Homo sapiens: one gene and its partners. The protein of the gene in region 5 interacts with the protein of the main gene of each other region in a biochemical or structural test. Each region holds a gene or a part of one and is shown on either strand. Other genes may lie near its edges. The genes, in order: GRID2IP, PDZRN4, CTNND1, MAGI3, RPS6KA3, APBA2 and MAST1.

Region 1 (4,056 bases), on a different chromosome or scaffold from region 5:
AGCCAAGTAAGGGGCTACCGGAGGTGGCTCAGGGGTCTGGCTCTGTCATCAGGTCTCCTTGGAGAGCGGTGAGTTCACCAGGGCTGCCCTGGGCAGAGTGAGCTGGTGCTGAGAGAACTGCAACTGTGACAGCCTAGGGGCCAGACGCTGGACACGTGGCTGTGATGAATGGCATAGATGAGAGGTAACAGCCTGGGGCTGGGGCAGGGAGTGCGGACGGGGTGGCTGCCAAAGGGAGAGAACCCAAAGGGAGGGCAGGCAGGGGAATGAAGTCTTAGAACATGGCTGCAGGGCAGGGACACTGAGGATGGATTTGGGTTTGGCCACATGTGTGACCTGTGTCCCTGTGTCCACCTTTGGTAACCAATGGAAGAACCACGCTGTGGAGCAATACTTGAAGATCGGTCCAAGGCTGGCAGGAGTGAGGTCTCCAGGGGACCCAGGAGGTCCTTATTTGTGCCCTTGTCTCACTGAGGTATTTTTTTTTTTTTTTTTTTAGATAGGGTCTCACTCTGTACCCCAGGCTGGAGTGCAGTGGTGCCATCTTGGCTCACTGCAACCTCCACCTGTGGGAATCAAGTGATTCTCCCTCTTCAGCCTCCCGAGTAGCTGGGACCACAGGCATGCACCACCAGGTCTGGCTAACTTTTTGATTTTTTTGTAGAGACAAGATCTCACTATGTTGCCCAGACTTGTCTTGAACTCTTAGGCTCAAGCAGTCCTCCCGCCTCAGCCTCCCAAAGTGCTGGGATTACAGGCGTGAACCACCAAGCCTGGCCTCAATGGGCATCTTTATTAGCAACTTGGAAAGGGTCCCTGGAGATGTGGGCTGAGAAAGCAGGAGACAGAATTGGGACCCAGGAGATGGCAGTGGGGAAAAATCACAAGCATGCCTCTGCCCAGTGTGACTACATGTGAGAGTGAGCTATTGATCCCAAGAAGATGGAGTTGAGGATGATGGTGATCATGAGCACTGGGACGGGGCAGCCCTGGGAGCTGGAAGGAGCCCCTGCCATATTAAAAGGAGTATGATGTCCCAGTCAAAGGAGCTGAGAACCCTGTTCTCTCCTCTGAGCTGGTCAAGCCCCATTGGGGGTTCCATCTGGGAATGTCTCTTTGACAGGGACATGGACACTGGAGTGGGGGTTGGAAACCATGTTCTAAGAGAATGATCTGAAAAAAAAAAAAAGGGGTGGGGTGAACCTTGTTCATCTTGCAGATTGGTTGGTCTGTGGATAAGATTGCTCTGCCCGATTTTAAGGGCCAGAAAGAAAACAGGGCATGGGAATCCTGGGGAGACAAGATTTCAGAGCAAGACAAAGGATGGTTAAAATCGTCCAGTGAGGAAAGGAAGACCTTGACAGGTAGTGAGTTCCCCACCACTGAAGGTGTTCAAGCATACACTGCCAGTGTTGTGAGGGAGGAACTTCAAGCATCAAAGTGAAAGGGTGAAGGCTGGTGTGCAGGAGTTTGAACCAGCTGCTCTTTTAAAGGTTTAAGAGAACTTGTCTGGCCTCAAAAGTGATAGGTTTCAAGGATGGGTAGGGTGGCATTTCCAGGTGTCCCCAGTGTGTGTCTTTGGCTGAGGGACACAGATTGGCTTCAATGCCTGCAGTGGCCCCCAAGCGTGGGGACGTTCTTGGGCTGGGCCTCTACTCATCCTCTGCTTGGGGTAGGGAGGATGATGTTGGAAGATGCCTGGCCGATGGGTTTTCCTTCAGTGCTGCTGCCCAAGCCATCCTCCCCCAGTACAGAGCGCTGCTGGGTCCCAGGTCACCTACCTGACCCCAGATGGTGCCTTCTGAGTTCTCCACCTGTTCCCACCGCAAGCGCTTGACGCTCATGTGGCTGGTCTCACTGCGCCGGTGGCCCAGGCCCCGGGACAGCATGGGGGGTGCACAGGGCACGGGTGGGGGCAGGGGCGGTGGGGGTGGTGGAGGGACTGGGTGGCTGAGTTGGGTGAGGGGCTTGGCCAGCGCCTGAGCAGGGCCCCGGGAACCATCAGAGCTGCGGGAGCTGGGCTTAGCGTCATGGAAAGGCAGGGGTGGCGGTGGTGGGGGGCTGAGCGGGGGTGGGGGGATGTGGTCAGAGATGGAGGAGTAGGTCAGGGAGCTGCCTTCTTCACTGCTGCTGATGCAGTCGCTGGCGCTGCTCCGCTCATTGGTTACGAAGCTGCCCTGGTCATCATGGAAGCTCATCTGGTGGTGGGGAGAGAGGCAAGGGGAGGGTGAGGCTGGGCCCAGAGAGACTAGAGCAGGTGCAAAGTGAAGGATCATGGGATAGCCTGGGACAAGGACAGGGCCATCTCACGGGTTAGCCTCAGGCTGTGAGGGACACCTGGGCTAAGGATAGGACTGTCTCACAGGTTAACCTCAGGCTGTGAGGGGGATAGCCTGGGCTAAGGATAGGACCCTCTCATGGGTAAGCCTCAGGCTGTGAGGGGGATAGCCTGGAATAAGGACAGGACCCTGTCACGGGTTAGCCTCAGGCTGTGAGTGGGATAGCCTGAGCTAAGGAATGGGCTAACCTGCGACAGGGAATATGGGCTAGCCTCAGTCAAGGAGCATGATAACCTTGAACAGGAGATAGGGTAACCTGGGGCAAGGGGTGGGATAGCTTGAGCTAGGGAGTGGGATAGCCTGGGGAAGATCCCAAGGGCAGCAGGCCCCTTGCGGGAGCCCAGGAACACTGTTGCCTTGCAGACCGCCACACCTCGCCTCACCCGCCTCCCTCCACACCTGCTTGCGTGCCCACCTCCTCGTAGTCGTTCTCCGGGGTCAGGAAATCATCCACGATGGTGACCCGGGGGCCCAGCTGCTCGCTCAGCACGTCCAGGAAGCGGTCAGTATCGCGGCTTCGCACAGGGTGGGAGAAGGTGAAGAGCTTCCTGCGGCTGGGCGGGCGGGTGGGGTCCGGGCTTGGGGGGCTGTCGGGGCAGATGGGCCCGGGGCCTGGCTGTGGGGAGGGTGCCCTGCTGCTGTCCAGGCTGGCGTAGGGGTGGGACTCAGAGCTGCTGGGGGAGGCCAGACCCCCCGAACACAGCGGGTGGTAGCAGGGGGAGGGCAAGAGTCGCTCGCTGGGCCATGAGACGCCGGACAGGGTCCTGGGCCCTGGAGGAGGGATGGAGTATGAGGATTCCTCTTCAGCCAGCACCGAGGTTCCAGGTGCAAGCTGGAGAGAGGGTCCTAGGACAGACTGGCTCTGTGTCCCAGGCCACTCTCCTTTCCCTCTCTGGGCACAGTGCAGGAAGACCTTGAGCGGCCCTGCCTTCCAAGCATGACTAAAGGCCAGATCTGGTGAGCAGGAGCACTGCTCGGCCTCAGGACAGGCTGGACGCCAGCTCACCTTGGAATGGTCACCAGGGGTCCCAGCTGGGAGCCACTGAACACCATTAACTCAAAGGGTGGAGGGGTTTCTCTAGGGCCCAGAGCCACAGTCATGGAGCGTCTCGCGCACCCAGCAAGCCCTGAGATCACAGGAGGGCCTCCCAGGGCTCCTGCCTTCTGAGCTGCAGAGCAACTGTCTTCCCAGCTGTGCCAACGCTGGTACAACGCGTTGCACTTGATCATTTATCCAATAACCACTTGCTAACTCGGGGACTTCCTCAGAATCAGGCATCTGCCTTCTTTCTTTTTCTTTTTTAAGACAGGGTCTTACTCTGTTGCTTATAGGCTAGAGTGCAGTGGTTCGAAATAGCTCACTGCAGCCTTGAACTCCTGGGCTCAAGTGATCCTCCCGCCTCAGCCTCTTGAGGAGTTGGGACTACAGGCATATGCAACCATGCCCAGCTAATTTTGTATTTTTTTTGTTAGAGATGGGGCCTCACTATGTTGCCAGGCTGGTCTCAAACTCCTGGGCTCCATTGATCCTCCTGCCTCGGCCTCCCAAAGTGCTGGGATTACAGGCACGACCCACGGTACCCAGGCTACTTTCTTGATCCACAGCTGAGGTGAGGGTCACAGGGCCATGGGAGGGACTGGGACAACCCTGACCCTGATGGAGCAGAGAAGCAGCTCCAGGGCTGAGCCTGGGGTGGAGGGAAACACCCAGACAGTA
Region 2 (4,056 bases), on a different chromosome or scaffold from region 5:
GGAAATCCACATATATTATAGAACAGATTTTAAAAATGTAGCTGTTGCAATATTATTTATTAAAAAGCAACAAAATGAGAGCAAATTATATTTAAGCTTATACTATAAAAATATTTTCCAATATACTTAAAACACGAGAGCCACATAGCTAAAGCAAATAGTATTTGAAAGATCTTACACTGGATATGTAATAGACAAGACATTTCTCACTGTAATAAATTAATTTCTTTGTTATACAAAACCCCTCAACCGTAACTTCATGAAGAAATGTGAAGTGGTATGAAAATGACCTTACCTCATATTCAAAGTCTTCTGTTCTGTCTGCATCAGCAGGCAAGCTGGAAATATACTCATTGTCCTCATAAAATTCATGCTCCATTGGATGTAGAGAATGGCAGCTATGGGGAATGTAGCAATATGATAGGAATAGATTAAATGGGTTGTTTTCCAGATTAAAACTGATTTTAGAATTTCACTTTAGTTTGCTCTGCTTTGGAATAAGATCTGTAGTGATCTAGTCTTTAAACAAACTACAGCTGAGGAAAAGCAATAGCTTTTCTTTCTCCCTCTACGTGAAGTCCATCAATTTGCAATTTCTGAGAGAATGCTAGGAATAAGGGCCTATGGTCAGAGTTGTATTCTGTGGAAAGACTGATGTGAAATCTCTGACAGTCCGTGGTGCTTTATTGATACTTTCTGGCCTGCTTCCATTCCACTGAATGTGACAAGCTCCATACGTGGGTGTGTGGCATTTGAGATTGCAGTCTACTCAAAGAGGGGTATTTTGTCATAAAGTACTACCAATTTCATAATCCACAGCTGCAAACTATTTTTTGAAAACCATTTTCAAAAGCACTTATTTTTTCAGACTCTAAAATGTGCTCACATTGTCCCCTCCTCTCTTTCTTAAGATCCCCCTTTCTCACTCTCCCTCATAATGCACATTTTCCCCTCTTTGATCAAGGACATATACACAAATATTAAAGAACATTCATGGCGATCAATCAGTGGAAACTCCTATAAGCCACAAGGTTTCAAAATACCTTTAGAAAATTCTCAGTGACAGAGAGAGCAGATTACATTAAGGAAATGAGAGGATATGGCTTTTATGTATTTCAACTTTTAGGAAATTTTTAAATAGTTTGTAAACATGTTATTCGATTTAGTATGTTCTGATATAAAGACTACACATCATACCATATGAAGACTAAGCATAGTTTAACAGCAAAGAGCATAAGGCCTTTTCTATTTCTAAAAGACACTGAAAAAGCCTAAATACAATTGACAAGTTGGTTGCAGATGAGACCTCTAACTCCTGCCAGTGTGGATCTTTTTGAAAAATTGGAGATAGCAGTATCAATTAGTTCCCTTCTCCCTTGTTGAAAGGCAAGAGACCCATCCTCATGCCCTCATACTATAGTCAGCGTAAATATTCTACCAGCCTCTCCTCACTACTATCTATGGCTGTCAGCTCCACACAGGTCTAACTAGTGTAGGCCAAAATGGTAAAAGTAATACAGGCAGCACCTTGCCTTGTGTCTACCAGATAAATCTCCTTGCTTATAGCTGGACTGGGTCCGCATAGCCCTTTTGGGCTCTTGGAATATCGAAGCCTGCTGCTTTGGACATCTGATGTGTTTCCCTTGTCTTTCGGATAGTAAGAAGGGAGCCCTGCTGTGAGGAACACTTTATTCATTCGACGTTTATTTAGTGGCTGCCAGATGCAAGGCCAAGTGCTGGAAATATGTTGGTTTACAAAATCCAATTCTGCCCTATTAATTGGGGAAAGCAGCAAAGTGGGAATTTTAATACAGTGCAATAATTAAGGGAAAAATACAGGAGCCTTGGGAGCACATGGTAGGGGTGGACCCACTGCAGCCCTAGGAAGTTTTCTAGAGGAGGTTGTCTCTAAGCTAAGGTCTGCAGGACCTAGGAAGAGCAGCAAGATGCACTGGCTAAGGGGGTAGGCATTGGGGTCAGACCTCTTAGGCCTAGAAGCCTGGCCCTGTCACTTTTTTGCTATGTGATCTTGGCCATGTTACTTAATATCTGTTCCCTCATCTTAGACATAGAATGTTGATAATATAATGTACTCCCTCCTAAGATTATTGTGAGAACTAAATGAGTCAATAAATGCAAAACGTTTGGAATAATACTGAAAGCATGTTAAGTTAGCTAATACAAGCTAGCTATTATTATTCATTCAAGGAAGTATTTGTTGGATGGCTACTATGTTTTAGGCTGTATTAATGAATATTATATATTTGTTTCCTTGCTTTTTGTTCAACTCCCCTTGTAGAATATAAACTCTAGAAGGCAGTGACTTTATTTTTGTTCATAGTTTTATGCCAAGCATCTAGTTGCAAGCCCTGACACATCCAATTTGTGTCTGATACAAAGGGCTATTTAAAATAAAGAGATACCCAAGACAAACAGATCCCCTGCCTTCCTGGAACTCGAAGTCTCAAGAAGTGTTTTCAAAACTTGGCTGCACATTAGGATTGCCTAGGGAGACTTTTGAAAATTTCTGATGCCTAAGCCTTACTCTAAGAATTCTCATTTAATTGGCCTAAGGAGTGATTCAGGTACTGATACAGCTTCTGAAAGTTCCCAGGTGATTCTATTGTACATCTGTGACCCACTGAAACGGGCTTATGGGAGCCAGCCATCAAAGGGCAGGAAAGTGGCATGACTCAGATCTTTGTTTTATGAAGTAGAGAGCGGATTGGAGTAGGTGATGAAAATGCAGGCTAAGGAGACTATTGCTCTTACAAACTCTCAATGTTTGAATATTTGCTCGAAAGCTCACAGAACACAATGAATTGGGCAAGCATACTTTTAAAACTGTTCAAGTAGGATTATTTGAATAAAATCTCTCTGACTTCCTTTAAATTAGGCAAAAATCAGGAGGAAGTATTCCTTGAATAGATCTTTATTTGATAGCACTATACTTACTCTCTGACAGCCAAGATCCTTTGTTTATATCTCAATATATTGGGTAAGTGCTTTCGTCAGAGAATTGCACTTTAATTAAATCAATTTCCTAGCTTCTCTTTAAAGAAGAGAAATGCAAGGAAGAGAGAGAGGTGGCCCACAGAGGAGAATGTGGTGCCAAGATGCCACTTCCACATGAGTCTTAATAAGGTTTTTGGCAGCTTTGGTGAGAAAAGTGATTTCCCTGACCAGTGTTCATGAGTAGCATGAGGCTTTTGACAGCTAGTAATATGAAGATGAACTAATCAGAGCCAGAATTTTTCACAGCAGCTAGCAAGTATGATTACCCAGGTGGAGCAACCATGTGGGTCAGGGAGAGTAGCTAGCAGGGACCACTGAGAACTAATTGCACATATCAAAACAGGGGAGACATTTTCCAAACGGAGCTGGGAAGCCTGTCTCCATAACTGTCAACCTGCTAGTGGAACTGCTTCTTTTCAACATCTGCTTTACGTGACAAATGGAAACAAACAGGGCTTTGGAAGAAATGATAGAAAAATACCTGTCTGAGAGCAGGAATGGACAGATGTCTGGCACTGGAGGGGTAGGTGGACGAAGCTTGGCCAGAGCCATGATGTGTTCGAAGGTGATGTCCGTCTGAGTGCTGGCATTCATAAGCTGCACTTCTGAAGCCATCCCATAGGCTGGTCTACTAAGAGGTGTTCGCCTTAACACCTGCACCACAATGGGCTCCTTGGCATTGCGAAAAGCTTCCACTGCCTCTTCATGAGTGGCCTTTGAAAGATCCTTCCCATTGACCTACAAACATATAAGGACATTGTTCATCTCAGAGGAAAGATCAGAGAGGCTGTCATGATAGATTAATAAAAGACAGAGAGAAAGGTTTCAACCAGCCCTGATATGAATTTTGTAATGGAATATTTAATCAGATATTAATATTTACTGAAGTCTTTACCAACATGATGAAGTACCTGAGATTACAACAACAATTACTTCTGTATCTTTATAAAGTATCTGGAGTTGGTTAACTAGTAAAACAGCAGAACTATTAGCAAAGATTTAAAAATTTAAGTAACACATCTGCTTCAGAAAAGGGTCACC
Region 3 (4,056 bases), on a different chromosome or scaffold from region 5:
CAGTGCCAGCTTGCCCCACATAGGGACCAGGTCCCCCATTGCCATTCTTGCGGAAATCACGACCCAAAGTCTGGATATAGTTGTTAGAAACTGATGAAGCATCCACAGGCAACCCGTCTGGTCCCATAGCGACTGGCTGTACTGTCCGTGTTGTCACAGTCTTCACTACTTTCTTGACCTGCAAGTAGGAAACAAGAAAAAGAAAAACTAATTAAGGAAGTGAGCAATTAAATTCTTTTTTTTTTTTTGAGATGGAGTCTTGCACTGTTGCCCTGGCTGGAGTGCAATGGCGTGATCTCGGCTCACCTGCAACCTCTGCCTCCCAGGTTCACGCAATTCTCCTGCCTCAGCCTCCCGAGTAGCTGGTATTACAGGCACACACCACCACACCTGGCTAATTTTTTGTATTTTTAGTAGAGACGGGGTTTCACTATGTTGCCCAGACTGGTCTCAAACTCCTGACCTCGTGATCCGCCCACCTCAGCCTCCCACAGGGCTGGGATTACAAGCGTGACCCACCGCGCCCAGCCATGAACAATTAAATTCTATACCACTCCAAAAGAAACAAATCTTTATATCCCTAGGTCACTTTACCTAGGAATGCCTTAAAGCCTACCATCTATCTTTCTTTCCATCCTATAGGAAGTCCCCAAGCAGGAAAATTGCCCTGACAGTAACTATGCTTATAAGGGAAGCTACTATAGACCCTGATATACCTTCTGTCTTCCCTATCCCATAAGATTTTCCCATCTCTTCATCCTTTCTATCTGGCCAGAGATCACTTCATGCAATCAGATCAATAATGGCATATCAGTCCTCCATCTTAATTAAGTGCTTAACCCCTCCCCTAATAGAGAAGAAAAGACCTCTTATCACTTCCAGATCTTACACACGTCTTAGTTTACCGTGGTCTCTGTGCGCCGAGTGGTCCCATCATCTGAGGTCTCCACAGAGACTACAGACATGGCTCCCTCAGGATCCTCCTCCGTGTAGGTCTCCACAATCTGCCCCGGCTCCTGCATCCTGGGGATGGTGCTATATAGAAGGTGACTGTGATCCTATATGCAAAAGAGAAAAGAGAAGAAACTACTATTAAGTGCTATGTATAACAAGCCATCCTAATAAGAAGCATAAGTGGTAAACCTGGAGACAGGGACTCCTCATGCATCTTCTATAGGCCTCAGGATTTTTAGATGGGTGGCTGTCATCTTTTGAACTTGTACAAAAGGACAGTAGACATAATTTCCCAGTTGTAGTCATTTAACAAACATGAACTAACTATAGCCACATCAACATCCAAGTGACAGACAGTAGATTTAACTTCCCAGCTGTGGTCATCTAAGTGAACATGAACTGTGTTAAATGCAGTTTCATCTATATCTGAGTGATCCCTCAAAAGAGCAGCTCACCCAATAAATAAATAACTTGTATTTATTTACTTGAGATAGGGTCTCACTCTATCACCCAAGCTAGAGTGCAGTGGCATGATCATAGCTCACTGGAGCCCCAACCTCCCAGGCTCAAGCAATCTTGCCATTTCAGCCTCCTGAGTAGCTAGAACTACAGGCTCACGCCACCATGCCTGGCTAATTTTATTTTTTTTGTAGAGACAGGGTCTATGTTGCCCAGGCTGGTCTTGAACTCCTGGGCTCAAGCAATCCTCCAGCCTCAGCCTCCCAAAGTGCTGGAATTACAGGAATGAGCAAACCACGCCTGGCCAAAATAAAGAACTTTGTTTTTTTTTTTTTTTTGAGACGGAGTTTTGCTCTGCCTTGGCCTCCCAAAGTGTTGGATTACAGGCATGAGACACCGTGCCCAGTCTAAAATAAAGAACTTTTTTTTTTTTTTTGAGACAGAGTTTTGCTCTTGTTGCCCAGGCTGGAGTACAATGGCATGATCTCAGCTCACCACAATCTCCGCCACCTGGTTTCAAGCAATTCTCCTGCCTCAGCCTCCCGAGTAGCTGGGATTACAGGCATGTGCCACCACGCCTGACTAATTTTGTATTTTCAGTAGAGACGGGGTTTCTCCATGTTGGTCAGGCTGGTCTCCAACTCCCGACCTGAGGTGATCTGCCCACCTCAGCCTCCCAAAGTGCTGGGATTACAGGCATGAGCCACCATGCCTGGCCAAAAATAAAGAACTTTTAAGACAAACCTGAAAATCCCAGTAAGAGCCATCTTTTGACTGGCTTTATGTTACTCTTCAGATACCGTCTAAAAGGCTCAAGACCAGCCAGATTTTAGGTAGGGTTTTTTGCTGCAAAGTAGAAGCCTACTGTCTCTAGAAAAGAAACGCAGTACTTAGGGATCAAATGGGGTGGCAGTGGGGAGGAGGAATAGTCATAAAGATCAATGGTCATTAAAATTCATTCCAAAACAAAACTGCATATATACTTTGGAGCTCCACTTCTTTGTTTTCGTAAATAAAAGAAACTAATTGACGAGTATGTACAATGTGCCAGGCACCTTACAAGACACAAATATGCTCTTATAGGCTGGGGAAATAAGAAAATATGAATGAAGCAACCCAGGTCTTGAGCCAAAGAATTACCTGGGGTCCGTTGAGTTTCAAATCTGAAAATTTCTGTCTTTCAAGGTCAGCATCGCCCACAAACCGGCCGTTCTGAAACACAGCCCACAAGAAGACAATTCATTTTGTGGCCTTCTTTTGCTCTATCAAATACAAACGATCTTTTTTTCAAACAGGAAAAGGGCTTTCAAGAAGATATGTGTGGCCTGGAGTCCTTGTGTCAGTACTCATAAAAGAACCATTCACTCTTTAGTCTTAGCACTTTCCTCAAAATTGAAAATCAGGCCTGGAACTCTGGCAGACAGGGTCTCTGGAACATAAGAACGTAAACTCCACGAGGGCAGAGGGTTTTTTGGGATAAGTTTAGTTTAGTCTAGTGCCTTGAACAGTGCCTGGCACATAACAGGTGCTCAAAAACTATTTGCTGAATAAACAGCACAGACCTAGATAATTTCCCTTACATGCAACCTTTTTGGAAAGCCATAAAAATGTAAGGAAAGTTGGAAGGGCTAAGTTGGGGGGTTTCCAAAGAGCTTTATAGTCTCATGAATCTTCATGCAGTACTACCACTGGAAACTCCCATTCCAGGCAGCTTTTTAAAGAAAGAAGCAAGATGGCTATCATGTCCTAATGTAAAAAACAGAAATTTAATTAAAGAAAAAAGCAAGAGATACGAGTCTCCCTTTCCAAGTACAAAAACAAGCACCCCAACTCCCCTCAAGAAAACAGAAGGCTCAATATCTTTACCAACAATTATTAGAGCCACAGAATACATTCCAAAATGTCATCCAGAAGTTGCTCTGTCTTAAGCAGCAGGAAATAATCTAATGACATTATACCACATAAAAATATATTTGCCTGCTCCTCTTCCAGTAGAATAGTGAGATCCAACCACCTTGGGAGACTCTTCCTCCACCCCACTCCCATTACATAGAGTGTAATGCTGCAGGGAGAGGAAGTTAAACATTACTTTCAGGAAGAAGGAAGGGTGTGGTTTTACTGCTAAGCAGAAGTTAAAAATAAGAGAGCAACCACATACTGAATCCTGGAATTCCCCATGACCTCCAAACCTGAGCAGTCCAGCTTTCTCCTTTCAATATAATTTCATCCCTAACTTTCTATTGTAGTTCCTGTAAAAATCCTAGGAACACTGCAAGCATGCTGCCTCCCTCAAATTCCTTGATCCTCCAACTGGAATTCTGTTCTCTCTCAACTGCAAGGCTCCTCAGTATGAGGGACTTTCTCTATCTTAAAAAAAAAAAAAAAAAAATCACTCAGCCGGGTGCAGTAGCTCACGCGTAATCCCAGTACTTTGGGAGGCCGAGGCAGGTGGATCACGAGGTCAAGAGATCGAGACCATCCTGGCCAACATGGTGAAACCCCATTTCTACTAAAACTACAAAAATTGGCTGGGTGTGGTGGCACACGCCTGTAGTCCCAGCTACTCAGGAGGCTGAGGCAGGAGAATTGCTTGAACCCGGGAGGCGAACGTTGCAGTGAGCCAAGATTGCACCACTGCACTCC
Region 4 (4,056 bases), on a different chromosome or scaffold from region 5:
TCTTCAAGAAGCTGGCAGTTTAGTGGGAGCTTAATGACTCATTGGTAAGGAATACCTGTAGTAAGGGTTTTGCCTTTTTCACTTTTCTGCCAGTGTTTAAAACTCTTTAGGTAGGTCTTAGTATGAATTTTGGTGAAAATGAGACTAACTGGCTGCATAGTGTGCTATTCGAAAAAGTAGTGGAGCTGCATTTTAGAAAGGATTTGGGTTCTCAAGTCATCACAAAAAGAGGGAAATCAAATATAAGCAAAACTGTCTTTTCAAAAAGCCCTTAAATTGTGCATAAAATACTATATTGTACTGTTTGTAGGATGAGTCCAAATGCCACTTTTCCACCCATGTTGGAACCAATTGCAGTTTTTTGGTCGAATACCAGAAGAAGTAATTTGCTTGCATTAAAAAGATATGTTTTACAAAAAAACTTTTAATTCTAAGAAATTATCCTCATCTAGGTATGTACAGTGAATTTATGGAAATTAAATGTGTACATGAAGTGAAAGAATGATTTCTTTTCTTTTTTTCTTTTTAATATCTTGGTAGGATCCACGCCATCTGCCCTTGTTTTCTGACTTGAGTGGTTGAGGAATGAATTGTGAATAATTTTGAACTTGTTTGGGTTTTGAAAGATGACAGATTTTGGTTGAGTGGAATTAGGATCTTTCCAGTAGTAGGTAAGAAGCAGAGGAGGAGAAAAACACAGGGCAAAAACGTTCCATACAGAAAGGTTTACAGTGTGGTCCATCTCAATAATTTTGTGTGTGTTTGTGTACAAGGGCACAAAATCCACATTATAGAATAATTGGAAATTATTTTGTACAAGGGCACAAAATCCACATTATAGAATAATTGGAAAATAGAGGGAAGATCATATTAATTGTTTAAATGTATAGGTAGTTCCATTATGAATAGTCTCCTGTAAGTTTTTTTTAAATGTGTTATCTCCTCGAAATAATGCTCTAAGGTGCTTAATGCTATTTCTGCCTTCAGCCTCATTCCACTCATAATGTTATACTATGAATATTTTTATTTAACCCTTAATGTACCATTAGTTCTGTTCTTTATGGTTAATAGCCCTATTTTTGTTGTTTTGGAAGTCTAGCCAGTTTTATGGGAAAACACAATTTGCTAGCCTAGGAAAAAGGGAATTGAAAAATATATTTTCATCTTAATCCCGCCTTCCCTTTTGTTACAGCCACAGCCGACTGGCTTCCAGTGAGAAGGGTGGCATCATTATATCTCCATTCTTCCCTGAACCCTAGCAATTTATCCTGATGCAGCCACTCAGCTGCATTGCAGTGGTTTCCAGGAGCAACCCACTTACCTGCAGCCCCCACCCATTTCAGTCATCCCAACATGGCCAGGGGAACATAGATTACATTTTGAGGACCATAATTTGACTTATGACATATCTAAATACCTGAGAAAGGACACGCTGTCCTTATAGGTGATTAGGTACTTGTTTTATTAACACATACTGAGAGATATTGTTTTAGAGACTCTGTATGGGTTATGAAGGGTTAAACTTTTTTGCCATAATTTGTTTGGAGTTTAGGGTTTGGTTTTAAAAAATATCATGCAGTGGTAATTGGAAAAAATTTTGTTTCAAATTTATTAATAATTAAGATCTTTTCTATTTGGAGGCTTCCCTTTTTATTGTCTTGGGTATACAATGTGAACGGTAACCGATCTACTTAATTAAAACTTTCTGGCATTTTAGCCTCTTTGCTTTTGCTGGTTTTTTTGCACATAATTTGAAACACGTAATTATTATTTTCTGGCTTCAGGGGAGTTTGTGAGAGGCAAGCCTGTATCTCGTTGTTCTGATTGGGAATTACACATGACTATGAAAAATGGGATTTTACTATACATAATGGCATTTAACAGAAGTAGTTTTATGAAAGGAAAATATCCTACAAGGTAGGAAAAAAACAAGTATTTATTAATGCTTCATTTTCTGAACTTAAATAGAATTAAGCTAAATTGGCTTTGCTTTTTCCTCCAATAAAATAACTTTTAAAAATTCACTTTAATGGAGTAGTTCCAGAGATATATTACTCTTTGGATATGGTTATCTAGTTTGCAGCAAGTATCTTGTGATATATAGCTTAGATCTCAGCAGGAAAGAAAAAAATCTTAATTTACATATCAGTTTCTGTATTTGTAAGAATTCTGTAGCAAGTGACAGAAACGCTGTTGAGATTAATGTAGGCTAAGAAGAAATTTATTGACTTACATACATTAAAATCCAGGCATAGATCAGTAACAGCTAACTTCTGTTCTCAAGTGTTGGTCATTAGAATTATTATTTGGTTCTCTTTTCTTCTGGGTTGGATTTTTTCTCAGCTAGACTGTCAGTGTAGCGGTGAAGGTAGCTCTGAACCCCGAAGTCATACAGGGTCCTTAAAGCTTCTCATCTTTTTGGAGTCTAATAACAAATCTCATGCAGGGACTTTGGCCCTGTGCCCATCTCTTGGACCAATTATTGTAGAGAGAGGAGAGGACAATGAAGTGCCATGATTGGTCAGGCGTGGGGACATGTCTACCCTTGCAGCTGGGTATAAATAGCATAATATGATTAATAACTGTAGCAGAACCCCAAGACGTAAGGGAGGGGGAGTTCCTGAAAGGGTGGGATGCCGAGGAATCAATACTACAGGAAATGATCTCTTTTAAAACATTTAATCTCTCTTACTTGGAGGCCAGAAGTAGTACACAGTTGTCATAAAACTATCATTTTTAGAAAAACAGATATTGGCTGTAAACCAAAACTGATTTGATTTCTAGGCACTGCTTTTACTCAAATATTTAAATAAAAAATTGCTTTTATTTAAAAGTTATTTCTTTAAAAAATTGAAATACTGATACCTTAATGTGCACAATTTAAAAGTATTTCTTGTAATTTTTATTTAATTTTCTTTAAAAAAATTAAATAAGATTCTCTAAAATCAATGCTGTTGATTTTTAGGGAGATGGAATACTTTGGAAGATTAACAGTCTTTGGCATTGAGAAAAATATTATTAGCCTAGTTAAACAATTACGTTTTTAAAACAATTTTATTCTACCATTTTGAAAATGAAATTCTAAACGAATTACTTTCCAAGGTGTTTTGCTTTTAAAACAATGGTCTTTTTAAACACAAATTGAGACAATGTCATTATTGTAGTATTTCTGAGGGCTCCCTAATAATACTTTTTAACCATGATTTCGTGGAAATTATGTGAAAGGAACTACTTCACTGACTCTTATATAAAATGGGTATATAAGAGTTTTGAAACATTACTTAAGTATGGTGTCATGTGGTAACTGTTTAATTACCAAAAATGTTATTTGGCAGATATTGCAGGATAAAATCTGATCCCCTTTTTAAAGTTTTTTATAGCCTCCACTGGGAGAACAGAGGTACTCAGAGCAGGGGTAGACAGTTGAAAGAGAGGGGTGGGTGCTCCAAATAACATTTCATACTATTTTTATATTCTATTACTGTATCAATGTCTTCAGCTTTGGTGCCATAAAAATAATAATTTTAGTAATAACTTTGAGTTTATATATGCCATGCACAGTAGGAGTTTTGTAGTTTTGCCAAGTGTCATCTGGTAGTTGGATCTTTAGTGAATATTAAATGTTGGTAGATTATTGGTGAATGCACTTACTGTACATAAAAATGAACATTCATGGAATTGGGTGTGATTTGCCAGTAAGAATCATCATAGCAAGTACTTTGTATTGTTAGATTAGTTTGGGCACCCTTCGGATGACTTTAGACCATATTTGGAAAATTACTGCTTCTACTTCAAAAGCCTGTAATAATTAGAGTTCTCCAATATTAATTCCATATATTGATTAATTAAGCCATGAAATCTAGTAAAATGATATAGTCTTTATTACCTCTGTTCACAGAATTGTATCTCAATCCAACTTGGTAGCTTTCAGCAGAACACTTTGTCAAAATATTATTAATTTTAGCTAAGAATTCTATTCACTAATTTCAGTGTTTAAGTTAGAATGCACATGCTAGTGAAAATTTTAATTTCCTTTGAATAGAATTAGATTTGCTA
Region 5 (4,056 bases):
AGCAAGTTTTCATTCTATACTTACATTCCAGTCTATCGTTGAGAAAAATGAATGTCTTTTAATTTCTTCAACTCCATCTGGTCCTGCACCTATCAAAAATGGATTCACTGATAATTTTATTTCAAGGAGAAATATACATATTGCTCAGCCTTTGTTTTCAATACTTGTCTAATTAATTAATTAATTAATTAATTAATTTTGAGACAAGGGCTTGCTCTGTCACCCAGGCTGGAGCGCAGTGGTGTGATCTCAGTTCACTGCAGCCTCAACCTCTCAGGCTCAAGTGATCCTCCTACCTCAACTTCCTGAGTAGCTGGGACTACAGGCACGCACCACCATGCCTGGCTAATTTTTGTATTTTTTGTAAAGATGAGGTTTTGCCATTTTTCCCAGGCTGGTCTTGAACTCCTGGACTCAAGTAATTCTCCCGCCTTGGTCTCCCAAAGTGCTGGGATTACAGGCGTGAGCCACCAGGCCTAGCCTTGTCTAAATAGTTAATAATTCCACCACAAAACAAATATCTACTCCCCGCTAAAAACAAACACCAACAAACATACAACATAAACAAATTAGTTAAAATTTTTACCTAATCTGTTTGCAGGATTTCGCTTGAAAAGCATTCGTAAAAGACTCTGCGCTTCAGGACTCAAAAACTGTGGCATTCCAAGTTTGGCTCTAAATAATAAATCCACATAATATTTTATTTTTTGGAGGCATCTGTATTTTTATTTTTAAAAATTCTTAAATTAAACTTTTTGAGATACTTGTAGATTCACACTCAGTTGTAAGAAATAATACAGAGAGATCCCCTGTGCCCTTTACCCAGTTTCCCCCAATGGTAACATCTTACAAAACTACAGTACAATATCACATCCAGGATATTGACATGGAGACAATCCAATGATCTCATTCACATGGCACTGGTTTTATTTGCACTTATTTGTGTGTGTGTTTAGTTCTATGCCATTTTATTACATGTATGGCTTCTGTATGAATATGTCACAGTTTATTTATCCATTATCTGTTGAAGGACATTTGGGTTGTGCCCAGTTTGGGGCTAATATGAATAAAGCTACAGTGAACATTTATGTACAGGTTTTCATGTGAACACATAACTGAATTTTAGTTCATAATCTAATAAGCTTTTTCATTTTTCAAAATTTTGCAAAGAGCACTGTGAAAGTAAGATCATTTGAATCCTAGTTCTGGCTCTGTTACTAAGAACTTTGTGACAGTGGGAAAGCCAATTATTCTGGGCCTGTTATCATTTCTTCATAAGCAAAGGGATTGGTCTCTAGACCAATAGCTCCCAAAGTATAGCCTCGGAACTCCTCCTCAAAGGGAATTTAAGAAACCTAACATTTAAAGCTGCTAAGAGAACATGTGTTTCATATGCCACTTTTTCCTTTCTATTCCCTTTAACAGCCCCTGAAGGGAAGGGGAACTGTGGGAAAGAGGATTGTGAAATATTGAAGATACACAGTCTAAAAACTGCTGGCCTAGATGAACTTGAAGGTCTGTTTCAGCTCTAATTTTAATTCTTTTTCCAAACCTACAAATTAAAGAAACCAATGATCCTGTAAGTATGACAATAATAATAGAGCTGGGGAAAATTCCTATTTCAGAAACAGATCCATTTATTATTCAGTGGGTTGTTATTGAGCTATTACATGCCAGACACTGTTTAGTGCTGAGGATACAGAGATAAAGAGAGCCCATGAAACTCATGGTCCATGGTGAAGATGGATACAGATAATGCTAGTACATTAAGAGACAAATGCAGAAGAACATATGCAAAGAGTGACAAGGGAACAGTAGGGGATATTTAATTTAACATGGGAGATTATGAAAGGTCTTCAATGCAATCTAAAGGCTAACAATTTATTCATTTGGCTAGTGTTTCCCCAAATTTTACTGAATAACATTAATCCCTCTAGATAGTTAGCAACAATAAAAAAATTCATGACCCAATGAGCTTGTAGAATGCTATTTATTATATCCCCCTATTAGACACACAGAATTAAAATACACTGCATATAAAAAGGCTGAGAAATCTAGAGCAAACAAATCAGTTTTTTTTTTTTTTTTTTTTAAGACAGAGTATCCAGGCTGGACTGCAGTGGCACAATCTCGGCTCACTGCAATCTCTGCCTTCTGGGTTCAAGGGATTCTCGTGTCTCAGCCTCCCAAGTAGTTGGGATTACAGGTGTGTGCTACCACACCTGGCTTTTTTTTTTTTTTTTTTTTTTTTTGTAGAGATGGAGTTTTGCCATGTTGACTAGGCTGGTTTTGAACTCCTAGCCTCAAGTGATCCTCCCACTTCAGCCTCTCAAAGTGCTGGGATTATGGGTGAAATCAGTATTTTCTAAGTATTTATTTCCAGCACCTCTTTTTCAAAGAATACCTATTAATATCTTGTAGAATTAATATTCTCTTGGACAAATCTGGGGAAACACTATTGTATTAGGTAACAAGGATGCAGCAGAGGTCCTGAAACTGGACTAACATGACTAGACTTATTTTCAAGAAGGTAACTCCAAGGGTAATAGAGAACAATTTGGAGTGGGAAGAGGTCATAAGTGGTAGGCAATCAACTTAGGAATGTGGTCAGATAGTATGGGTAAGAGGTCACTGTTTTCTGAATACTTTAAGCAGTTTAATTCAGAGGAAAGGCTGGAACAGTGAAATAATTCTGAGATCGAATTTGGAGAATACCTAATTATGCAAAAGAGAGAAGGAATAAAAAATGATTTCCTGGTTTCTGGCTTGGAAGAGGGTGCATGAAAATGCTGATAACTGGGAGTATAAGAAAAGAACAGCAAATAAAGATACATTTAGTTCAAAGATGTGAAGTCATGCATGTAATATGTTTTGGGAGGGCCAGGCAGGTGAGTAAATAGAAACACAGGTCTAATGCCTGGTAAATTCATGTAAGAAAGAGTGATTTGAGAGTAATTAAAATGTGGAGGGTAGTTATAGGAAAGACTGAAGTCAGTCAGGAAAGAGTGCAGAGGGGGAAGAAAAGCATATCATAGACGGATCCTGGGGGATAAGACCATTTAAAAGGTAGTCAGAAAAAGAACAATTAGGGCATTAAAAATAATGACTGCAATTGGCTGAATCACACTGATTATTAAATCCCATGAGTTTATTATGTAAAGTAAGAAAAAGCAAAGTCAAAATACAAAAACTCGACTCACTGGATACTACCCCCACTAGGAAGTAACTAGGGCTCTGACATTAGAAACAATTTAAGAAAAGAATTAAGTATTTATTCTCTTTTTCTTGGATGAGCGTTATTTCAAGTAATTAAATCATCATAGTTGATGAGGGAAAGTTTGTTGAGAAAATACCAGCTAATAAATGAGGAAGGAATAATAATAATAATAGAAAATCATGGCTGGTGCATAGTGGCTCATGCCTGTAATCCCAACACTTTGGGAGGCGGAGGTGGGAGGATCACTTGAGCCCAGGAGTTTGAGACCTGCCTGGCAACATAGCAAGATACCATCTGTACAAAAGATTAAAGAACTTGGCTGGGCATGGTGGTGCACCTGTAGTCCTAGCTACTCCAGATGCTGAGGCAGGAGGATCGTTTGAGCCCAGGAGTTTGATGTTGCAGTGAGCTGTAATCATGCCACTGCATTCGAGTCTGGGCAACAGAGCAAGACCTCATCTCCAAAATTTAAACTTTTTTTTTTTTTTTTAAAAGAAAAGCAATTCATCACTTTTGAATTCCTTATAAAATAACTGTTTCAAGTAATGATTATTAATGGATAGAACCATTAGTTAAAAGCATGCCAGGGAACTTTACAACGGAGGAATCAGCTGCAACCACTGGAGCCCATCACTTAAAGTGGGGGCAACCAGGTATTGTAAGCCTCCTGATGTAATAGGGACCACACGGTATTAGCTGTGAAATAATCTTGCTAAAACAGTTTAACCAAAAACAGAATAGAGGATCAAGCTAATAACACTAAGGGAATAAAAAAAAATTTCCATACTCCTAGGAAAAGACTAATTGTTATGTAACCATGGTAACAAGAGAACCACCAG
Region 6 (4,056 bases), on a different chromosome or scaffold from region 5:
GCTATATCTTGCTGAAAAGTGAGTTAGTGTTTTGGAAGGTCAAATGGAGGAACTAATTTATACCACACAGAAAAAAATGTGAAATGGGTGCTATGAGTGTAAAGTTCAGTGATTTGGAGGGCAAATTCCAGAGATATTCCAGAAAGAGAAAAAGGCCATTAGGGAGAGAAATAAAAAAGAAATAGCAAGAATCTTCCTGTAACTAAAGTAAGATGTGGGACTTGATTCGGAAAGGGCTCACCAAATGAATCTCACATAAAATTAATGAGACCCTCATAAAATTAAAAAAGACCCTTATCTAGACATAGTTTGCTGGAATTTCTGAACTCTAAGAGTGGAGAGGAAATTGTATCAGCTTCCAGACGGAAGGAATAGATTTTTGTACCAAGGTAAAAAGAATCTGAATAGTATTAAAATGCACATCTGCGAGACTGTAAGCTAGAAGATAGTGGAACAGTGTTAGCAAATTATTGTGAAAAGGATGCAATACAATAATCTTATACCTAGCAAAGGTATCATTCTATGTGAGATCAGAGCCATTTTATAGATACAAAAGAGTTACCTCCTAAGTAAACAAAATGACTCTAACAATTATTTTTACAAAATAAAAATGAAATCCCACTAAATAGTTCAAGAGAAAGAAATGCAAAAAGTATAGGAAGCAGTGGTAAGTTATGAATTGAGTAATTATAGTCCAAATTATATTGTTGTCGTAGTGTTATACATCTGGAATAAATTTTTCTGAAATCATCTGAAGGCTTGGAGAGCTAATAGGAAACACCAGTGGAAAATAAACTCCTGGTTCTATTGTAGTTCTCCTACAATGTCCTCAGTGTTTTCATTTTTGAAAACTTGAATAACATTTTAATAGGATCTGGACTGTTCCATGTTACTGTAATGTGTATTTTAGTCCTTATGTCCTATATTGGCCTAGAGAATATTTTATTTAGTGTTGGTATACATATTTATATGTGCATATTACAGATTTTATCCCCCCGAATGACAGAGATTTTGAAGTTAAGATAGCAAGAGTACTGTGTACTTTAGTTTGTTCTCTTAACAAGGATGTGCATACCTTCAACGTGCACAGCTTGATGTCAGAGCCTGGCGAGAAACAGGGATGCTGTAGAGATGGCACCGCTATGCAAGGAATGGGAGCTGTGTGCTCATGTGCCAGTGATGTACCATCTGCCCTTTGCCGTCCTGACGTCAAGACATGGACGTCTGGTTGCATGTTAGCAGCTGCATTCAGCACATGCTTCTGAGAGACCGTTTTGAGGAATGTAGTTACTGGAGATTGTGTCTGAGAGTTGTGGTTGCTAAGTCCCTGACATCACTCCTGCAGCCTCTCTCTTGTGGCTGGCTGTCCTCTGTGAAGATAAGAAATCTGGTGACAAGTTATATGTGGTCTTTGAGGCAGCTCAGTGTTCTTGATGTGTCCTCTGACACATCTGGGTTGCAGATGTCTTAGTGAGTGCTGGCCCCTTGTTCTCTTCTAGGGAACAGCTCTTTCGAATTGTCCTGCCAGTTTCAGGGTTTGCGAATGGGGTGACGGGCCCTGCAGGGTCCATCTCAGTGACAATTTTCCTGGTGTGGGACATCTTTGCTGTCTGTGGGCCACTCTAGGGGGAGTGCTGTGAATTGCTCCGCATACCAGTGATGCTCCTGAAACACGGCCATGGACAAGCCTGTGCAGGTGGCGGAGTAAACATTGCTTCTTTAGATGTCAAGTGTCCTTGGAGTGAATTCACACGTTGGAAGCATGTGGCTCCATCAGTAATTGTGCCCACACTCTGAGTGTCTGGACTGGATGAAATAATTATCTCCTTCTTCGTTCTTTTGGGAATATTCATACTGCTGTAACCGTGACCATCTGGTACACTCAGTCTCATAACAAGATGTGTTTTGGGCACCACTACAAACAAGGTGCTGTGTTTGGAGCTCTGGGGGGATACACAATATGGAAGGCCTTGAGTTTGTGGCCTAAACTAAAGAGACAAGAGGGGAAGAGGAGGTACAGGAAGGCAAGATGAGAGCCCGGGCAGTGACTGCTGAGGGTCACTGATAGCTCCTCTTTCATCTTCACTTCCTGCTCCCATCTGAGCCCAGATCCCTTTGCTTCTGCCACCTAAGGTCCTCACTGAGCCACTTCTCCACTGTCCTCTCTACTGTTTTAGTTTAAGCTCTCCTTTTTTTTCTTTTTAAAAATTGCAGTAAAATAGACATAAAAAATTTAGCATTTTAAGCATTTTCAAGTGTGCAAGCTCTTAACTGGACTACTGGAATATGTTTTTTTAAATAATTGAACTATCATGCAAGCAAAAAGGCATGTGTAATGTAAGAGTACAGTTTAAAGAATATGACAAACATTTGGGGAAGCAATTAGCTGAAGAAGTAGAACGTTGCTGGGCGTGGCGGCTCACCCCTGTAATCCCAGCACTTTTAGAGGCCGAGGTGGGCGGATCACGAGGTCAGGAGATCGTGACCATCCTAGCTAACACGGTGAAACCCCGTCTCTACTAAAAATACGAAAAATTAGCTCGGCATGGTGGGGGACACCTGTAGTCCCAGCTACTCGGGAGGCTGAGGCAGGAGAATGGTGTGAACCCAGGAGGTGGAACTTGCAGTGAGCTGAGATGGTGCCACTGCACTCCATCCTGGGCGACAGAGCGAGACTCCATCTCAAAAAAAAAAAAAAGAAGTAGAACGTTAAGCAAACTTTTGGACGTCCTCTGTGCCACTTTCCTGATGCTAGCCCCTTGCTTTCCCCCAGAAGAGAGAATAGCCTTTTCACTGGTCTCCCTGCCTCTAGCCTCTAGCCTCTGTCCCCACGCCAGGCCCAGAGAGACAGGGCTAAAAGAAAAAATGTTGAAAATGGCTCAGTGACTGTGCACATGTCTTAGTCTGTTTTCTGTTGCTATAACAGAATACCTAAGACTGGTTGATTATAAAGAATGGAGATTTGTTTCTCACAGTTCTGGAGGCTGGGAAGTCCAAGGTCAAGGTGCCAGCATCTGGTAAGGGCCTTCTTGCTATGTCATCCCAAGGCAGAGGTGAGAAGGTGAGGGAGAATGAGAAAGAGAGCAAGAGAGAGCCAAACTCACTTTTATAACAAACCCACTCTCACAATAAAGAACTTCCTCCCAAGATAAAGACATTAATCCATTCATGAGAGCACAGCCCTCATGACCTAATCACCTTTCAAAGGTCCCACCTCTCAACACTGTTGCATTAGGGATTAAGTCTCCAACGCATGAACTTTGGGGGACATATTAAGGCCATAGCCGTGTGGTTTGGGGGATAAAGTGCAGAGTCCTGGGCACTGGGTCCAGGCCCTCTCCCAGTTTGGCCTGCCAGGTCTCTGCAGCTGCCCTGTCACCCCACGATACCTGCAGGCTGCGGCTGCACCCTTTGTCCTCTTCTCCCCATGGCCGAGCAGTGCTGTCCCCTCTGCTGAGCCCTCCAGCCTGCCACGCTGGGGACTTGTGTAGAGCTTTTCTGCACATTGCTCAGCCTGGATGGTCCCTGCGCATCCAGTTCCTCGGTGAACATTGTTCAGTTTGAGGGGGAAGAGGAGGGAGAGGATGGGATAAGCCTGAAGGGGAAGGTACCCAAGATAGTCTTTGAGGGGTCATGGATTTAGATTGGGAAGAGTTATTGTCCCTCCTCATTGGTCCTCATTATGTCTTCTTAATGAAAGCTGCTCATTTTCTTCGTGAGAGCAAACAACCTGATCTTCTGACCATTTGTCTTGGTCACCTGGGCTACCCAAACTGAGTGAGAAGTCAGGAATGAGCCGGTAGGTTCCTGGGGAGAGGCGTGTGTCCTCGTGAGTTGCCGGTGCCTCCCTTGACTGCTTTTCCCGGAGCTCTGTGTGCCCTCGTTCTCCTTGGTGTGGATGCGTGTTGTTCTGATGATGAGTTAGCGGGGGTGGGGATGGCGCACTGTTTGAACAGATGTGCCCTCACATGGCTGCGGGAGGACGTGGTGGGAGGTGCTGTGGTGAAGTGGCCCCACACATGGCTGGGCTTTGTGGGGTTTTGACTCTGTCCTTCC
Region 7 (4,056 bases), on a different chromosome or scaffold from region 5:
TCTCTAGTTCAGTTCCAGGCCCACACTCACAACTCACCCAGGCCAGGCCCCACACCTAGCCCAATCTCAGGTTCTTACCTACATTTCAGCCTGAGCCCCGCCTGTATGTCAGCCCCGCCCCACTTGGCCCCGCCCCCACCAAAATACCACCTTCGCACCTAGGCATCACATCTTGGTACTTAGCCAGGCCCTATCCCAGGCTTTACTTACCCCAGGGTCCCTCTTCCCGGATCCCACCCCTCGACCCAGGTCGTGCCTGGTGTCCCAGCTCACTGTCAAAGTAGCTAGTGTCATCTTCCGACTCTAGGTGGGGGATGAACTCGGCCTTCTGCCTCAGCAGCCCTGTCCAGTCCAGGTCTCGAAAGAAACTGTGCTGCTTCACCTCAAAAGCGCCGCCTGGGACGGAAGGGATTCCAGCCACAGCTGATGGCCAACCCAGCAGCCCAGCCCCGCCCCCCATGTCTTCCGCCCCGGGGCCACAGCACAGGCTGGGCCTGGGGTTTTGGAGGCCTGCTCTCTATCAGTGGGCCCTCAGCTCCTCTGCATGGCGGACTTACCTGCCCCAAGCCTGACCAGAGGGTTGGTCTGCAGGAGGCTGGATATGAGGAGTTGGGCCTCCGTAGGTAGGGCCTCATCCCCCTCGGGCCACAGGATGTCATCTGCAAAACAAAACGGAACTTAGGGGCGGTTTTTGTTGTTGTTGTTGTTTGGACACAGGATCTCACTGTGTCACCCAGCTGGAGTGCAGTGGCACGATCATGGCTCACTGCAGCCTTGACCTCCTGAGTGCAAGCGATCCTCTGGGGGGTCGCTTTTGAAATCCCTGGAACCCTGAGCCTGTCCATCTCTCCGTGCACACCACACTCTGCCCCTGTACACTGCCAAGCCACGTACCACTGATGACCTGTCCAAATAGCTCCTCTGGTGTGTCTCCGAAGAAGGGCACACAGCCCACCAGGAACTCGTAGAGGATGATCCCCATAGCCCACCAGTCCACTGGCTTGCCGTAGCCTTGACGCAGGATGACCTCGGGCGCGATGTACTCTGGGGTCCCACACACCTGGGGGCAGGCTGTCAGCCCACGCCCCAGCCAGAGGAGGGCCCTCAAGGGAGAGCTGTGCCCCCCACCAGGCCCTGGGTTCCCGAGGTCCTGCAGGGTCACTCCACCCTCAGCGACCCCCATGCCCGCACACACACCTGTTTGTCCAGGAACTCTCGGGCGTCCTTCTCGATGTGGCCTTCATATAAGTTGGTGGTGAGGCTCATGAGCCCCATCTTGGAGAGGCCGAAATCTGTGAGCTTGATGTGACCCATGGAGGTGATAAGGAGGCTGTAGGCACAGGTGGGGATCTCAGGGATGAGGCCCGTCCATTCTGCCTCCTGGCCTCCCGAGGGACAGAGGGAGTGATGGGAAAGATCAAAGCTCACTTGTCAGGCTTGAGGTCGCGGTGCACGATGCCATAGTTGTGCAAATACTCCAGGGCTAGCACCGTCTCAGCAAAGTACATGCGGGCCATCTCTACGGGCAGCGCTCCAATATTCTTCAGCAGGGTGGCACAGTCGCCGCCTGCAGGCCAGGAAATGGGCCCGCATAAAAAGGGAGGCATTCCTCTCTCTGGACATGCACCATAGCACCAACTTCTCATGTTATGTTGTACCCGTTTTATAGATAAGGGAAACTGAGGCTCTGAGAGGGGCCTCCCTCCCTCCAGGTCCTCTACTGGGTTCTTCTTGTCCTCTTAGCCATCCTCCAAAGTTGGTGTCATCAGCTCATCTTATACACAAAGGGATGGAGACTCAAAGAAAGGATGGGTCATGCAGGCAGTTGTTGGTAGAGGTGAGGTTTAGTTGGGGAACAAAGGCTACCCACTTATCAACTGCATCTGGAAGCACAGCCCTCTATCTCCTGGTGTCTGAACCTTGGAGCTGGAAGCCTTAGATGCAGATTCTTGGTCTTCACTAGATTTTTTTTTTTTTTTTTTGAGACAGGGTCTTACTCCATTGCCCAGTCTAGAGTGCGGTGGCAAGATCACAGCTCACTGCATCCTCAACCTCCCAGCTCAAGCAATCCTCCTGCTTCAGCCTCCTGAGTAGCTGGGACTACAGATGTGAGCCACCATGCCCAGCTGATTTTTAAAAAATTGTTCAAGGCTGGGCATGGTAGCTCACGCCTGAAATCCCAGCACTTTGGGAAGCCAAGGCGGGTGGATCACTTGAGGTCAGGAGTTCGAGACCAGCCTGGTCAACATGGTGAAACCCCATCTCTGAAAAAAGAATACTAAAGTTAGCCTGGCTTGTTGGCAGACGGCTGTAATCCCAGCTACTCGGGAGGCTAAGGCAGAAGAATGGCTTGAACCTGGGAGGCAGAGGTTGCAGAGATCCAAGATCGCACCACTGCAGTCCAGCCTGGGTGACAGAGCAAGACTCCGTCTCAAAAAAAAAAAAAAAAAAGTTTTTTGTAGAAACGAGTTTCATTGTGTTGCCCAAGCTGGTCTCCAACTCTTGGGTTCAAAGGATCCTCCTGCCTCAGCTTCCCAAAGTGTTGGCCACTGCCTCTGCCCCTCTGCCAGATTTACTGTAATTGGCATTGGTATTTCAGTTTCTCAATATCTATTTCCTTTTTATCCTACAAAGGCTAGATTTCCTTCCATGTGCAGCAACCGGGGCAGTATGTAACCCAAGTTGCTCCAGTGAGTTAGCCCTTGGAATTTTCACTCTTTTCCTGTAAGAATTGCTAAGCTCATAGAATGTAAGCTGAGATCTGCTAGATGGCAACCTTGCTACATGAGGGCTTGTCTAGAAGGAAGCCCACATGTGGGAGTACAGAGCCAAGAGATGGAGAGTTTCCTGATGGAATGGTTTGAGCACCTACATCCAGCCATTCCTGAAGGTAATATTGGTTTTTCAATCACCAATGACCAAGAAAGCTAATGATTTCTTTCTTTTTTCTGTTCTCTTTTCTGCGAGATTTTGCTGGTTTCAGAAACTCTCTGAGGGTGGGGCCCAGGAATCTGCATTTGAGCACATCTATTGTGCACACAGACCCACCATAGAGATACTGATTTGGCCCCCTTCTCTCCTCCTCCTCTGCAATGAACCTGGACTAGAGCAGTCATCTACCTCCTAGTCTCCTGATTCTGCTCTCTCCACAAGAGCCAAATGGATTATCTTTTCTTAATTTTTTTCTTTTTCTCTTTTTTTTTTTTTTTTTTTTTTTGAGTCAGAGTCTGGCTCTGTCACCCAGGCTAGAGTGCAGTGGCTCCATCTCGGCTCACTGCAACCTCTGCCCACTCACCGCCCCCGGGTTCAAGAGATTCTTGTTCCTCAGCCTCCCGAGTAGCTGGGATGATAGGCGTGCACCGCCACTCCTGGCTAATTTTTGTAATTTTAGTAGAAACAGGGTTTCATTGGCCGGGCACAGTGGCTCACGCCTGTAATCCCAACACTTTGGGAAGCCGAGGCAGGCACATCACCTGAGGTTGGGAGTTCGAGACCAGCCTGGCTGACATGGAGAAACCCCATCTCTACTAAAAATACAAAAATAGCCAGGTGTGGTGGTGCATACCTATAATTCCAGCTACTCAAGAAGCTGAGGCAGGAGAATCGCTTGAACCCGGGAGGAGGAGGTTGCGGTGAGCCAAGATCACGTCATTGCACTCTAGCCTGGGCAACGAGTTTAGCCAGAGCGAAACTCTGTCTCAAAAAAAAAAAAAAAAAGGAAAAGAAAAAAACAACAACAACAGGGTTTCACCATGCTGGGTAGGTTGATCTTGGACTCTTGACCACAAGTGTTCTGCCTGCCTTGGTCTCCCACTGTAAGTGCTGGGATTACAGTCGTAAGCTACTATAATGGGCCTCCAAATGGATTTTCTTAAAACATAAATCTGATCATATCAAATCTTCTTAAAACCCTCCATTAGCTGGACATGGTGGTGCCTGCCTGTAGTTTCAGCTACTTTTGGAGGCTGAGGTGGGAGGATTGCTTGAGCCCAGGAGTTCAAGGCTGCAGTAAGCTGTGATCACACCACTGCACTCCAGCCTGGACAATGCACTAAA

The links.
Region 1: the proteins of RPS6KA3 (region 5) and GRID2IP interact in a test that uses a peptide from one of them, tested with the Homo sapiens proteins (one large-scale study listed by IntAct).
Region 2: the proteins of RPS6KA3 (region 5) and PDZRN4 interact in a test that uses a peptide from one of them, tested with the Homo sapiens proteins (one large-scale study listed by IntAct).
Region 3: of the proteins of RPS6KA3 (region 5) and CTNND1, one has a biochemical effect on the other in vitro, tested with the Homo sapiens proteins (one study listed by BioGRID).
Region 4: the proteins of RPS6KA3 (region 5) and MAGI3 interact in a test that uses a peptide from one of them, tested with the Homo sapiens proteins (one large-scale study listed by IntAct).
Region 6: the proteins of RPS6KA3 (region 5) and APBA2 interact in a test that uses a peptide from one of them, tested with the Homo sapiens proteins (one large-scale study listed by IntAct).
Region 7: the proteins of RPS6KA3 (region 5) and MAST1 interact in a test that uses a peptide from one of them, tested with the Homo sapiens proteins (one large-scale study listed by IntAct).

Annotation. Positions count from the first base shown.
Region 1 is NC_000007.14:6,506,204-6,510,259, forward strand, and holds part of GRID2IP (delphilin), read right to left. Parts: intron 3,950-4,056; exon of another isoform or gene 3,813-3,949; intron 3,111-3,812; coding exon 2,755-3,110; exon of another isoform or gene 2,703-2,754; intron 2,199-2,702; coding exon 1,782-2,198; intron 185-1,781; exon of another isoform or gene 1-184.
Region 2 is NC_000012.12:41,506,153-41,510,208, reverse strand, and holds part of PDZRN4 (PDZ domain-containing RING finger protein 4), read right to left. Parts: intron 3,754-4,056; coding exon 3,497-3,753; intron 399-3,496; coding exon 296-398; intron 1-295.
Region 3 is NC_000011.10:57,792,579-57,796,634, reverse strand, and holds part of CTNND1 (catenin delta-1), read right to left. Parts: intron 2,626-4,056; coding exon 2,554-2,625; intron 1,059-2,553; coding exon 906-1,058; intron 179-905; coding exon 1-178. UniProt on the Homo sapiens protein: Key regulator of cell-cell adhesion that associates with and regulates the cell adhesion properties of both C-, E- and N-cadherins, being critical for their surface stability.
Region 4 is NC_000001.11:113,396,783-113,400,838, forward strand, and holds part of MAGI3 (membrane-associated guanylate kinase, WW and PDZ domain-containing protein 3), read left to right. Parts: intron 1-4,056.
Region 5 is NC_000023.11:20,176,410-20,180,465, forward strand, and holds part of RPS6KA3 (ribosomal protein S6 kinase alpha-3), read right to left. Parts: intron 676-4,056; coding exon 587-675; intron 108-586; coding exon of another isoform or gene 90-107; coding exon 25-89; intron 1-24. UniProt on the Homo sapiens protein: Serine/threonine-protein kinase that acts downstream of ERK (MAPK1/ERK2 and MAPK3/ERK1) signaling and mediates mitogenic and stress-induced activation of the transcription factors CREB1, ETV1/ER81 and NR4A1/NUR77, regulates translation through RPS6 and EIF4B phosphorylation, and mediates cellular proliferation, survival, and differentiation by modulating mTOR signaling and repressing pro-apoptotic function of BAD and DAPK1.
Region 6 is NC_000015.10:29,049,771-29,053,826, forward strand, and holds part of APBA2 (amyloid-beta A4 precursor protein-binding family A member 2), read left to right. Parts: intron 1-4,056. UniProt on the Homo sapiens protein: Putative function in synaptic vesicle exocytosis by binding to STXBP1, an essential component of the synaptic vesicle exocytotic machinery. May modulate processing of the amyloid-beta precursor protein (APP) and hence formation of APP-beta.
Region 7 is NC_000019.10:12,862,320-12,866,375, reverse strand, and holds part of MAST1 (microtubule-associated serine/threonine-protein kinase 1), read right to left. Parts: intron 1,568-4,056; coding exon 1,429-1,567; intron 1,331-1,428; coding exon 1,198-1,330; intron 1,061-1,197; coding exon 895-1,060; intron 660-894; coding exon 558-659; intron 397-557; coding exon 274-396; intron 1-273. UniProt on the Homo sapiens protein: Microtubule-associated protein essential for correct brain development. Appears to link the dystrophin/utrophin network with microtubule filaments via the syntrophins. Phosphorylation of DMD or UTRN may modulate their affinities for associated proteins.